Linked DNA regions of Homo sapiens: region 1 is linked to region 2. The links come from fine-mapping of genetic effects on gene expression. A gene starts in region 2. The other region holds a variant in brackets. All regions are shown on one strand. Distances are between the middles of the regions. Region 1 overlaps DOCK11 (dedicator of cytokinesis 11). Region 2 holds the start of DOCK11 (dedicator of cytokinesis 11).

Region 1 (5,000 bases), 110 kb before region 2:
GATCACGCCACTGCACTCCAGCCTGGGCAACAGAGCGAGACTCTGTCTCAAAAAAAAAAAAAAAAAAAAATGAAGGCCCGGCACGGTGGCTCATGCTTGTAATCCCAGCACTTTGGGTGGCCAAGGCAGGTGGATCATGAGGTCAGGAGTTCGAGACCAGCCTTTCCAACACAGTGAAACCCTGTCTCTACTAAAAATACAAAAATTAGCTGGGTGTGGTGGTGGGCGCCTGTAATCCCAGCTACTCGGGAGGCTGAGGCAGGAGAATTGCTTGAACCCCAGGAGGCAGAGGTTGCAGTGAGCCAAGATTGCACCACTGCACTCCAGCCTGGGCAACAGAGCTAGACTCCACCTAAAAAAAAAAAAAAAAAAAAAAGAAGGAAAGGAAAAGAAAAGGGAAAGGGAAAAGGAAAGGAAAGGAAAAGGAAAAGGAAAGGAAAGGGAAAGGAAAGGAGAAGGAAAGGAAAGGAATAAAGACGCAATGAAAAGCATGTCAACGGGGAAAAGGAAGGGAGAGCCGGGGCAGGTGTAATGATATGAACTATAATTGGGGGTAAGAGACTAGCAGTGTCCTCAAAGTTTAGCATATATCAGAAGCACCTGGTGGGCCCTTTTAATAGATTGCTCAGCCCCTCTCCCGGAATTTCTGATTTTGTAGGTCTGGAGTGAAGCTCAATGATTAACAATTTTACTAAGTTCCCAGGCGATATTGATGCTACTGGTATGGGAACCATGTTTTGGAAACCACTGGCCTAAAGTTTCTTCCATTTTCAACAACACTATCCCCAACAGCAGCGATGCCCGCAAATGGTGTGTGGCTGTGGTGTGAGGCCTGCTGGAAGAGGTTGTGGCAACAGCAGAGGCAGCAAAGCCAAAGCCAGAAACTTCCAGCACTCAGCCCACAATTTAAGTACCCTGTTTTGATTTCAAAATTCAGGTGCATTTTGCATTCTACTCTACAATATATCCTTGTTTGTTTTCACATAAAAATAATACTTCCTTATTCTTTCAAGTAAAAATTGATGGCTTGGGGCCACATTCTGTTAAATATGCATCCCTAGTCACCTGTGTCTATTTAAATTGATTAAAATTAAAATTACACACAATTAAAAATTCAGTTCCTGCAGGAAGCGGTGGCTCACGCCTGTAATCCCAGCACTGGGAGGCCGAGGCGGATGGATCGCCTGAGATCAGGAGTTTGAGACCAGCCCGACCAACATGGTGAAACCCCATCTCTACTAAAAATACAAAATTAACCGGGCATGGTGGTGGGCGCCTGTAATCCCAGCTACTCGGGAAGCTGAGGCAGAAGAATCGCTTGAACCCGGGAGGCGAAGTGAGACATTGCACTCCAGCAGGGGCAACAAGAGCGAAACTCTGTCTCAAAAAAAAAAAAAAAAAAAAAAATTCTGTTCCTCAGCTGAACCAGCCCCAGTTGAAGTCTCAATAGCCACATGTGGCTGGTGGCTGCTATATTGAACAACACAAGTGCAGAACATTTACATAATTGGAAAAAGTTCAATTGGAACTTATATATTTATCTTCTTAAATACATAAAGCAAATATTAACGAACATGAAAGGAGAAATATATTGCAATAGAAAAATAGAGGACTTCAATACCCCACTTTCAACAATGGACAGATCAACCAGACAGAAAAGTAATAAGGAAACATTGGACTTGAACTACACTTAGACCAAATAGACCTAACAGACATATACAGAACATTCCATCCAACAGCAACAGAATATCCATTCTTTTCATGAGCACATAGAATAGTCTCCAGAATAGACCATATATGTTAGGCCACACAACAAGCCCTAAGAATTATAAGAAGACTGAAATCATATCAAGTGTTGTTTCCAACCACAATGGAATGAAACTAGAAATCAATCACAGGAGAAACCGTGGAAAATTCAAAATAGGTGGAAATTAAACATGTTCCTGAGTCAAAAAAGAAAAGGGAAAATTTAAAATATCTTGAGACAAATGACAATGAAAACACAACATACCAAAACCTATGGAATGCAACAGCAGTTCTAAGAGGGAAGTTTATAGTAATGAATACCTCCATTAAAAAATAAGAAAGATCTCAAATAAATAGCATCTTTGTATTATAACACCAAAACTCACATGGTGCAGTTGATAGGAACGTCATCTTCATGGGTCATATTTGTGAGAACTCGGAAGAGTTGCATAAGAATTACAGGTAGAAACTGTATCATGACTTGGATCTCCATGGCATGCAAACACTAAAATTAAGTCATTATTAGTTATGAAAACAAACAGAAATATGATAAAATTTGCAAATGTGAAACAGCAAAAAAATTAAGTAGTGAGAAATACATTGACTAGCATATAAGCTCAATTAAAAGTGAGCTTTCCATTGGATAGGGGGCTTTTTTGTTAATTACTTAATCCACACCTCTATTTGGCACTCAGATTTTGTTATTTAACATTAAACACTTTACTAAAGCTAATAAGTATAATTTGGATAAACAGTTTTTAGAAAATTGACAACTGACTCCTGGTAAACCAACACTCAATTGCCTGGGGCAGTGGGGAGGAACAGATGTTTGGAGATGATACTGGAGATGCATCTACTAACCCCCAGGCATTCTGTATGTTCTGCAGGGGAATGTGGGCATCAGTTAATCTGGTGACAAGTTAAGTGGAATGCAATAAAGAGTGGTTCTATATGTAATTGGCTCTACACCATCACCACTACAAAACGGAAGCACTTTTGCAGTCTAAGAATCTCACAATACATTTCCTTCAAAGTGCTAACACTGTGTCTCCAATGATAAGTGCGTTACAAACATCAAAAAGAAGAAACGTGATCATATATACAGAGAAATAATACAAACAGTGAAAGTTGTTCAATTTCTTTCTTCTTTCTTCCCTTCTCTCCACATCATTCACTCACTCAACCAGCTAACCAAAAAAAAAAAAAAAAAAAAAAAAAAAAGGAAACAAACCTCGCTGAGCATCTTTCT[A/G]TATCAATTCAATGTGTAGTGCTAGGGGAAATAGAGAGGTGGATAAATCAAGTCTCTGTACTTAAAAAACTCATAAATTCTCTTTCCCAGATTCCCTGACTTTTGCCACTATCTGTCTTCAAGACCCTCTAATCAATAACCAAAATAGTATAAATCATTTTCTTTTTAGCAGGTCTCTGTACAATTTCTCTTTACTCTCCATACATCCAACTCTCATTTCTAAATTAATCTTCCTCAAATACTCGTTACATTAGACCACCTCCTGCCAAGATTTTTTCGATGTCTCCCCATAGCCTATGGCAGTGGTTCTCAACCAGGGGCCATTTTGTTCCCGACAGATTTGGCAATGTCTGGAAACAGTTTTGGTGGTCACAACCAGGGAGTGATACTGACATCTAGTGGTCAGAGGCCAGCAATGCTGCTAAATATCCTACGACGCACACACAGACCCTCACGGACAAAGAATAACTCTACCTCAAAATGTCAATAGTGCGAAGATTGAGAAATCCTGGCGTAGAGTATCAAGACCAAGTTATTTCAGACCTAACTGACATTTTCAGCCTAAACAATCATCACTGTTCTCTACAAGGCCAAACTGGTATCTCTGGTTTCTTCACTGTTCTTGAATATATCATATACTTTCCTGCCTTTGTGTCTGTTCATCGTTTTTAGCCAAATCCTGGCTACTCTTTCAAGGCAAGTACAAATCCCCACTTCAGTGAAACCATTCATTTTCTCATTCGACAAAGGGCAAACAAATGAACTTCCAATAGCCAAGCACACCAAAAACAAAAGTAAACCCAAACAAATAAAGGCCATGGTTTCTACCATCAAGTAGTTCACAGTGTACAGGGGATAAACACATGGAACTAAATAATTGCAATATCAACAGTAAATAGCATGATCATGGAATATACAAAATGCACAAAGAAGCAACTGAGTGTGCAAGTGGGTAGGGAATGTCTGGTAAGGCCTCAGAGATGAGAAAGGGTAAATGATAAATAGAATAGTGCCAGGTAGAAAAGAGAGATGGGCATTCCCTGCTACCAGTAGCAGTCCTCTGTAATTTATTCTCAACATGACAGCCAGAGTGTTCTTTCTGAAATGCAAATTAGACATTGCCATCTTTCTGTTGTTAAAAAACAAAACAAAACAAAACAAACTACCACGAACAAAGAGCTATCATAAGCTTCCATGCCTACGACATACCCGGCCTGTCCCGCCAAACCTGTCACTTGCCATCCTCCCCTCACAATGCACACTGTACTATAGCTACACGGTCTTTTATTTTTCTGTCCTTCAAACATGCTGATGTAAGGTGTTTACACCTACTGTGATATTCTGTTATCCTTTTACACGACTTTACCCCCTAAGGTTGTCTTCCTCTCATCCTTTCAGCTTGAAATGCTATTTCCCCCAATAGGCCTTCCCTGACAACTCTATGTAGAATACACTCCTGGTCATGTTGGATCTCATTAACCTGCTCTTTTCTTCATGGCACTCACTTATAATCTCTCTACCACAACTAGAAAAGGTATGCTGTCTAAACTGTTCCCCATTTGATTCATAGCATCCAGAACAATGTCTGGCCCATACTACATGGTCAATAAATATTTGGTGACTTACTGAATAAATGAATAAAATAAGAAAGTAGGCCGGGCGCGGCAGCTCACACCTGTAATCCCAGCACTTTGGGAGGCTGAGGTAGGCGGATTACTTGAACTCAGGAGTTCGAGACCAGCCTGGCCAACATGGTGAAACCCTGTCTCTACTAAAAATACAAAAATTAGCCAGGCATATTGGTGCATGCCTGTAATCCCAGCTACTTGGGAGGCTGAGGCAGGAGAATAGCTTGAACCCGGGAGGCAGAGGTTGCAGTGAGCTGAGTTCATACCATTGCACTCCAGCCTGGGCAACAGAGTGAGACTCTGTCTCCAAAAAAAAAAAGACAGGAGCCCTCTAGTCTACAGTAGTTCCTCAGTTCACCGAACCCTCAGCACTTGTG
Region 2 (5,514 bases):
GAATGCTAATGTTAACTTTTTGCTGCTAGGGTGGCAGGTCAAGTGCTGATCAAATCCCAGTGGAAGTTTTCTTAGTCCCATTTATTCTCGAGAAATCTGGCCACCTACAGCTTTCTTCACGTGTTGTGGTAGAAGGCCAGCCAACCCCGCTCAAGGAAGGTTTTTTGTTTTCTCTGAATTTAGGAAAGCGTTCTCTGCTAGGTAGATTGAATCACGTGTTAACAATCACCCAAGATGAGAGCCCTGGTATAAATGCTCTGCACACAGCTTGCCTTCCTCTCTTAACTGGCTGTGATGACAGGCAAGGCTCCAATCTGACCTCAACAGGTCCTCACTCCAAAATCAGACTGAAATACACAAGCCAAGTCCATTAAAGTAACATTAAAGGTCTGGATTTAGCTCCACTAAACAGCAGAATTAAACTTTCAAGGGTCTAGCCACAATAAAGAGATTTCTTTAAAGTCACTTAGGTTTGCACAGTTGTAGCTATTAGGGATCAGATCTTTATCTCAAAGGTACATAGTTTACCTTTGATCCTCCTCCAGAACTCCCACTAATGTCAACTTTCTCCACTGTTGGGATCAAGCCCCTGGCCTCCCTTTAATGCTGGGTTTTATTGCTGATTCTACAAGATCAACAGAAAAATTACAAGGAAAAGCTGTGAAGTTCCCTTCCGATGACAAGTTGTTTTAACAAAAAGAGCCCTCTCTTAAACGGTGAAATTTAAACACAGCAAACGACTCGCTGTAAAATGGAGCTGAGGGAGACAAAAACAAACAAAAACAACAACCAAAAAACAAAGTAACAAAACAAACACTAATTAATCAGTCCGATTGCTTATTCAGGGTTTGTTCGCTTGTCCAGGAAACTGGCAACGAGTGTCTTGAAAACAAGAGAAGGGGCAAGTGCCCGTTAGCACCCTTTAGCCTTTCTCCAGAGTCAGACAATCTGGATAAGGCTGAGGGTGCTCTGGGAGGGTTCCCAGGGAGTCAGCGCGCTTTCGAATCCCCATCCCCCAGTCCTGAGCTGTGGGGCTCTGACCCCAGGTCCTCCATCCCTGGACTGACACACCCAGTCTTCCCCCAAATCCCCACGGCACCGTCCCCTTGGTCCCCTTGCCTCTGGAGCGCTCGCGTGTCCCCGAGGGACACACTCTCCCTGCGGTGGATGACCCTGCGCCCACTCTGTCGCAGAACCCCGTTGTTTCTAATGCCCTTCCTCCGCAGCAGCACCCCTTCAACACCCATCACCACCCTCTCTCCCCAGTTGCAGGAGGAAGTCGCTCTGCTTCCTCTGTTCTCACCGCCAGCCCGAGCTTGGGCGCCCGGGGCTTTCTGGGTGGGGTTCTTTTTTGTGTACACAGTGTGTGTATGTGTGCGCGCGAGAGTGTGTGTGCCAAACGCTCATCGCATCCTTCCGCCTAGGCGGCCTCAGGTGCTCGCGGGAGGGGATCAGGATCTCGTCGTGCCCTTGTCCCCGGCTCTTTGTGCCGAGTCCAGAGCAGCGCGAGGTCAGCTCTTTAGCTCACACCCCCGGCCCCGACCCTGGGTGGGAGCCTCCGCCTCCGCCTCCTCCGCAGCCGTCCGAGCCCGGCTTTTGCCCGTCTGCTTCCATCCCGGCGCACGCCTCCGCCGTGCCGGGCGGCCGGAGAGCTGTCAGCCGGCGCCTGGGACTCGGACCCCGGCCGGCGGCTGCCGGTGCGAAAACTTACTGGAGCGGAGAAAGACAGCGCGCGGCGCACCAAGCGGCCGCACTGGCGCCGTTCCTGCCCCTTCCCGCGTCGCTCCCGCCTGGAGCGCGTCCCCCGGGATGCCCCGTCCCCCGGCCACTCACCAGCACCACGGAGCCCCGCACGGCCTCAGACACGCTCTGCCGGAGCTCAGCCGCCGTGCCAGGCTTGCTGAGCCGTTTGGTGAATTTGCGCACTTCGGCCATGGCAGCGGCGGCGGGCGGGTCTCGGCGGGCGGGCGGACCTCGGCGGGCGGGTGGACTCACTGCCCCGGCCCGCGGCGGCCGCGGCCGCTGCTGCTCCCTCTGTTTACTCGCCGGCCGGCCGGCCACATCGCAGCTCGGCGGCGGCGCGGCTCACGCTGCTCCTCCCTCCCACCTCCCACCCGCTGCTCCTCCCTCGTTCCCTCCTTCCCTCCTTTTCTCGCTCGCTTCGCCCGCTCACTGTCCTGCCCCACGGCGTCGGCGGCGGCAGCTCCCTCCCCTAGAGGGCCCGAGCTCCGATCGCCACCAGCCGAAGCAGGAGGGTGTGTCTGATGGGGAAGGGTGTGTAGAGGGGGAGGGAGAACTGGAGGTGGGGGCGAGGGTCACGAGGGAAGAGGGGGGAAGTGGCTACCGCTCGGGCTCCGCCCGCAGCTGATGTTGCTGGTGCAGCCGCATCCGGGAGGGGAGATCTGGGCTGCTTCTTTTTTTCCGCTTGAGTGGGGAGGGCGGGGTGGGGTGGGGGAACAGAGAGGGGTGATGAAATGTCTCCAAGAGTGGGGCGTGCTCCTCTCCCGCCCTAGTGCTCCTCTCCCGCCTCCGAGCTGCAGTGCCCGCAGGAGGGCTGGAGAACTCTCACGTCCCTCCACCCCGCAAGCCCCCAGGGCCCAGGCGGCTAGGGGCTGGAAAACAACGTGGAGCAGCCGCCTTTTGTGTGCTCCTTGGGGAAGGGTCGCACCAATGTCGAAGGACAGAGAGCTGCTTTCCAGCGTGAGCGGCTCGACTGGGTCCCCCTCCTCGCCCACACCGTTTTCCTACTCAGTTGGCTCACCTAACAGGGGGCAACACTGGGGAGAGAGCATGCTTCTGGAAGTGGGAACTTATTGTGGCGGCACCCCTCGCTCCGTCCCCCACGGGGGAGAGCTGGGTGGTGGAGCCTGAGCCTGTGGCAGGTGATCCCTAGGTCAGCACTGACTGCACCAGGAGTGGGGTGGGGGTGGGCATTAGGATGAGCCTGTGGCAGGTGATCCCTAGGTCAGCACTGACTGCACCAGGAGTGGGGTGGGGGTGGGCATTAGGAAGGCCATCTCCCTGGGTTTGGTGGACTTACCAATCTTATAGTAGCTTTTACAAGTGCCCTGCACTCACCTCTCCATTTCCTATTCATCTCCTTACTCTTTTCAGCTTCCAAGAAATTGTTTTTCCAAGAATCAAAGAACATCTCATAACAGGGTATAAAACGAACATGCTTAAGACAGAAATAGGGACGGGAATCTTGAAGTACTAGTGACCCTGTCAGACCTCCTGAAGTGCAGAGTGAAAGGCTCCACTGATGGTGGCAGTTTTCTATCTGGTTATTTCATTTGTTGAGAGTTTGAAAATGGCCCTCAGTCTGGGGGACCGAGCAGCCCTTCTGAAAGCAGTCCTACCACCACCCATCGGGCACTTTCCCCACCCTCAAAGACCAAACAGTCTTTTAGGGGACTTTATTATGGAAACAAGGGCATGCGTGGTGATGGTTTCTTTGAACCCAGAAAAGGCCAAGTCTCTTCGCAGTAAGCCTATTTCAGCCATCCCATCAGTCTCAATAAAGCATATATGGAGGCTCCTAGAGGGCCTGGGACCTGGAAGTCCTCTAAAGACATTCTGTCACAAATCTTAGTTTTGCACAGTACGTGTAAAATTTGTTAATTGTTGCGTGTAGGCTGATCTCCAAGAATTCATACCCTCTGTTCCATAAATGCCTGTGTGGCTCATGCTGTTGGTTACCACCACAATAGCTATAACACTTTTTGCTTGCAAAGAGAGCCCAGATTTACTTCAGATATAGGGCAGAGCCACAGGGTTTAAGGAAGGCAGGCCCAACTCCAGGTGATGAATCATGACTGATGAAAAAACCATGATAAGCTCCCTCTTATTGACTAGTGGGATGGTCTAGACTCCCAATCGGTTTGGGCCAATAAGATATAAGAGGGAAGTGTGAGAGGAGGGTTCCTGGGAAAGTTTTTCTACCTTGATGAAAAAAAAAGGAGAGAGGCCCAGGCCCCACTTTCTTCCTGAGAGGGATGTTTTCTTGCAATGCTTTGGCCCTTGGCAGCCATATTGCAACCATGAGGCAAGGCCAAGGCAATCTCAGAGAAGCCAATGTAGAATCCAGACAGCATTGAACTGTTGAACCAGGCCTGATACTGCCTACCTCTAGTTCCTTTTTATGTAAGAAAAATAAACCCCTGCAGTTTATGACACGTTTAGATGAATATTCTGTTACTTTCAGCCAAAAGCATTCTTAGTACCACAGGCTCTATGGTAGCCACTGAAGGTGCACAGCATTGAACAAGACAGGCAAGGTCCCTCCTCTCCTGGAGCTCACATGTCAGTGCAAAGAAATGAACATGTTAATTTCAGAAACATAAATGCTATGTAGAGAATTAAGGGGAGTTGATAGAGAGTAACTGGAGTTGGGGACCTAGTTTAAAATAGATGATCAAGAAAAGCTTCTTTGAGGAGGTAAACACTGAGCTGAGTCTTAAAGAAGCAGTCAGCAGAGATCAGCAGGTAGACCATTCCAGGCGACAGAAATGCCAGGAACGAAGGCCTAGAGATGGGGGCAGACTTAGTGTGTTCAAAGACCAAAAAAAGGCCAGTGTGGCTGGAGCGTAGAAGGAAGAAGAGTGGTACAAGATAGAGTAGGAGAAGTAAGCAATTTCTGCAGAGTATTGTGAGCCATGGGAAGCATATGTCACACTGATGGTGCACAAACACCATCTGGCCATTGTGCAGGCTCTATGCTCATTCTTGAGATTGTAGATTTCACTTCTTCTGGTTTAAGACTTCTATTTAAATACATAAACATTGAGCATGGTGCTACACACTGAGGGAGAATGCAGTATGAATTAAAGACACTATTTCCTTCTGGGAAAAAAAAAAGAAAGTCTAGTAGAGAATGTATTTATGGTACAAAGTAGTATGTGATACAGACCATACTCAAGGTAAAGAGGCAGGAGAGGCCGAGCGCGGTGGCTCATGCCTGTAATCCCAGCACTTTGGGAGGCCGAGGTGGGTGGATCACCTGAGGTCAGGAGTTCGAGACCAGCCTAACCAACATGGCAAAATCCGTCTCTACTAAAAATACAAAAATTAGCCAGGTATGGTGGCAGGCACCTGTAATCCCAACTACTTGGGAGGCTGAGGCAGGAGATCACTTGAACCCGGGAGGCAGAGATTTCACTGAGCCAAGATTGCACCATTGCCCTCCAGCCTGGGCAAGAAGAGTGAGACTCCATCTCAAAAAAGAAAAAAGAAAAAAAAAAGGCAGGAGAGATCATATCTTCTTAGGTCTATGAAAGGTTTTCTGGAACAGGGGGTGTTTGAGCATTTGAGCTGGACTTTGCGGAATGGGTAGGATTTGGATATAACTGCACTCACATAGTAAAGAGAAATCGTAGGTGCAATCTTACAACTTCCAATAGGGCATTTTATTGGGCGATTTCTTTTCCACATTCGTTAAATATATTCAGTTTTTATCACAAATTTAGCTGCTGCATTAACACTATCCTAATTCTATCCTAATTGAACCTGAGATAC

What was found. PIP is the estimated chance that this variant, and not a neighbour inherited with it, causes the effect.
Region 1: its variant is fine-mapped to the expression of DOCK11 in lung (TOPMed, PIP above 0.99). The same link has a PIP of 0.9 or more in whole blood.

The regions. Positions count from the first base shown.
Region 1 is chrX:118,602,489-118,607,488 of GRCh38, reverse strand. DOCK11 (dedicator of cytokinesis 11) reads right to left here. Exons shown (of 53, transcript NM_144658.4): 24 at 2,133-2,251. Among named protein-coding and RNA genes, the nearest start is that of DOCK11, 110 kb to the right of the region's middle. The variant A/G (reference allele first, on the strand shown) is at 2,996.
Region 2 is chrX:118,492,393-118,497,906 of GRCh38, reverse strand. It overlaps DOCK11 (dedicator of cytokinesis 11), which reads right to left and starts at 2,092. Exons shown (of 53, transcript NM_144658.4): 1 at 1,834-2,092. The coding sequence starts at 1,935. RefSeq lists silencers at 1,565-1,624, 1,795-1,854, 1,945-2,024, 2,135-2,274 and enhancers at 1,304-2,282, 2,685-2,754.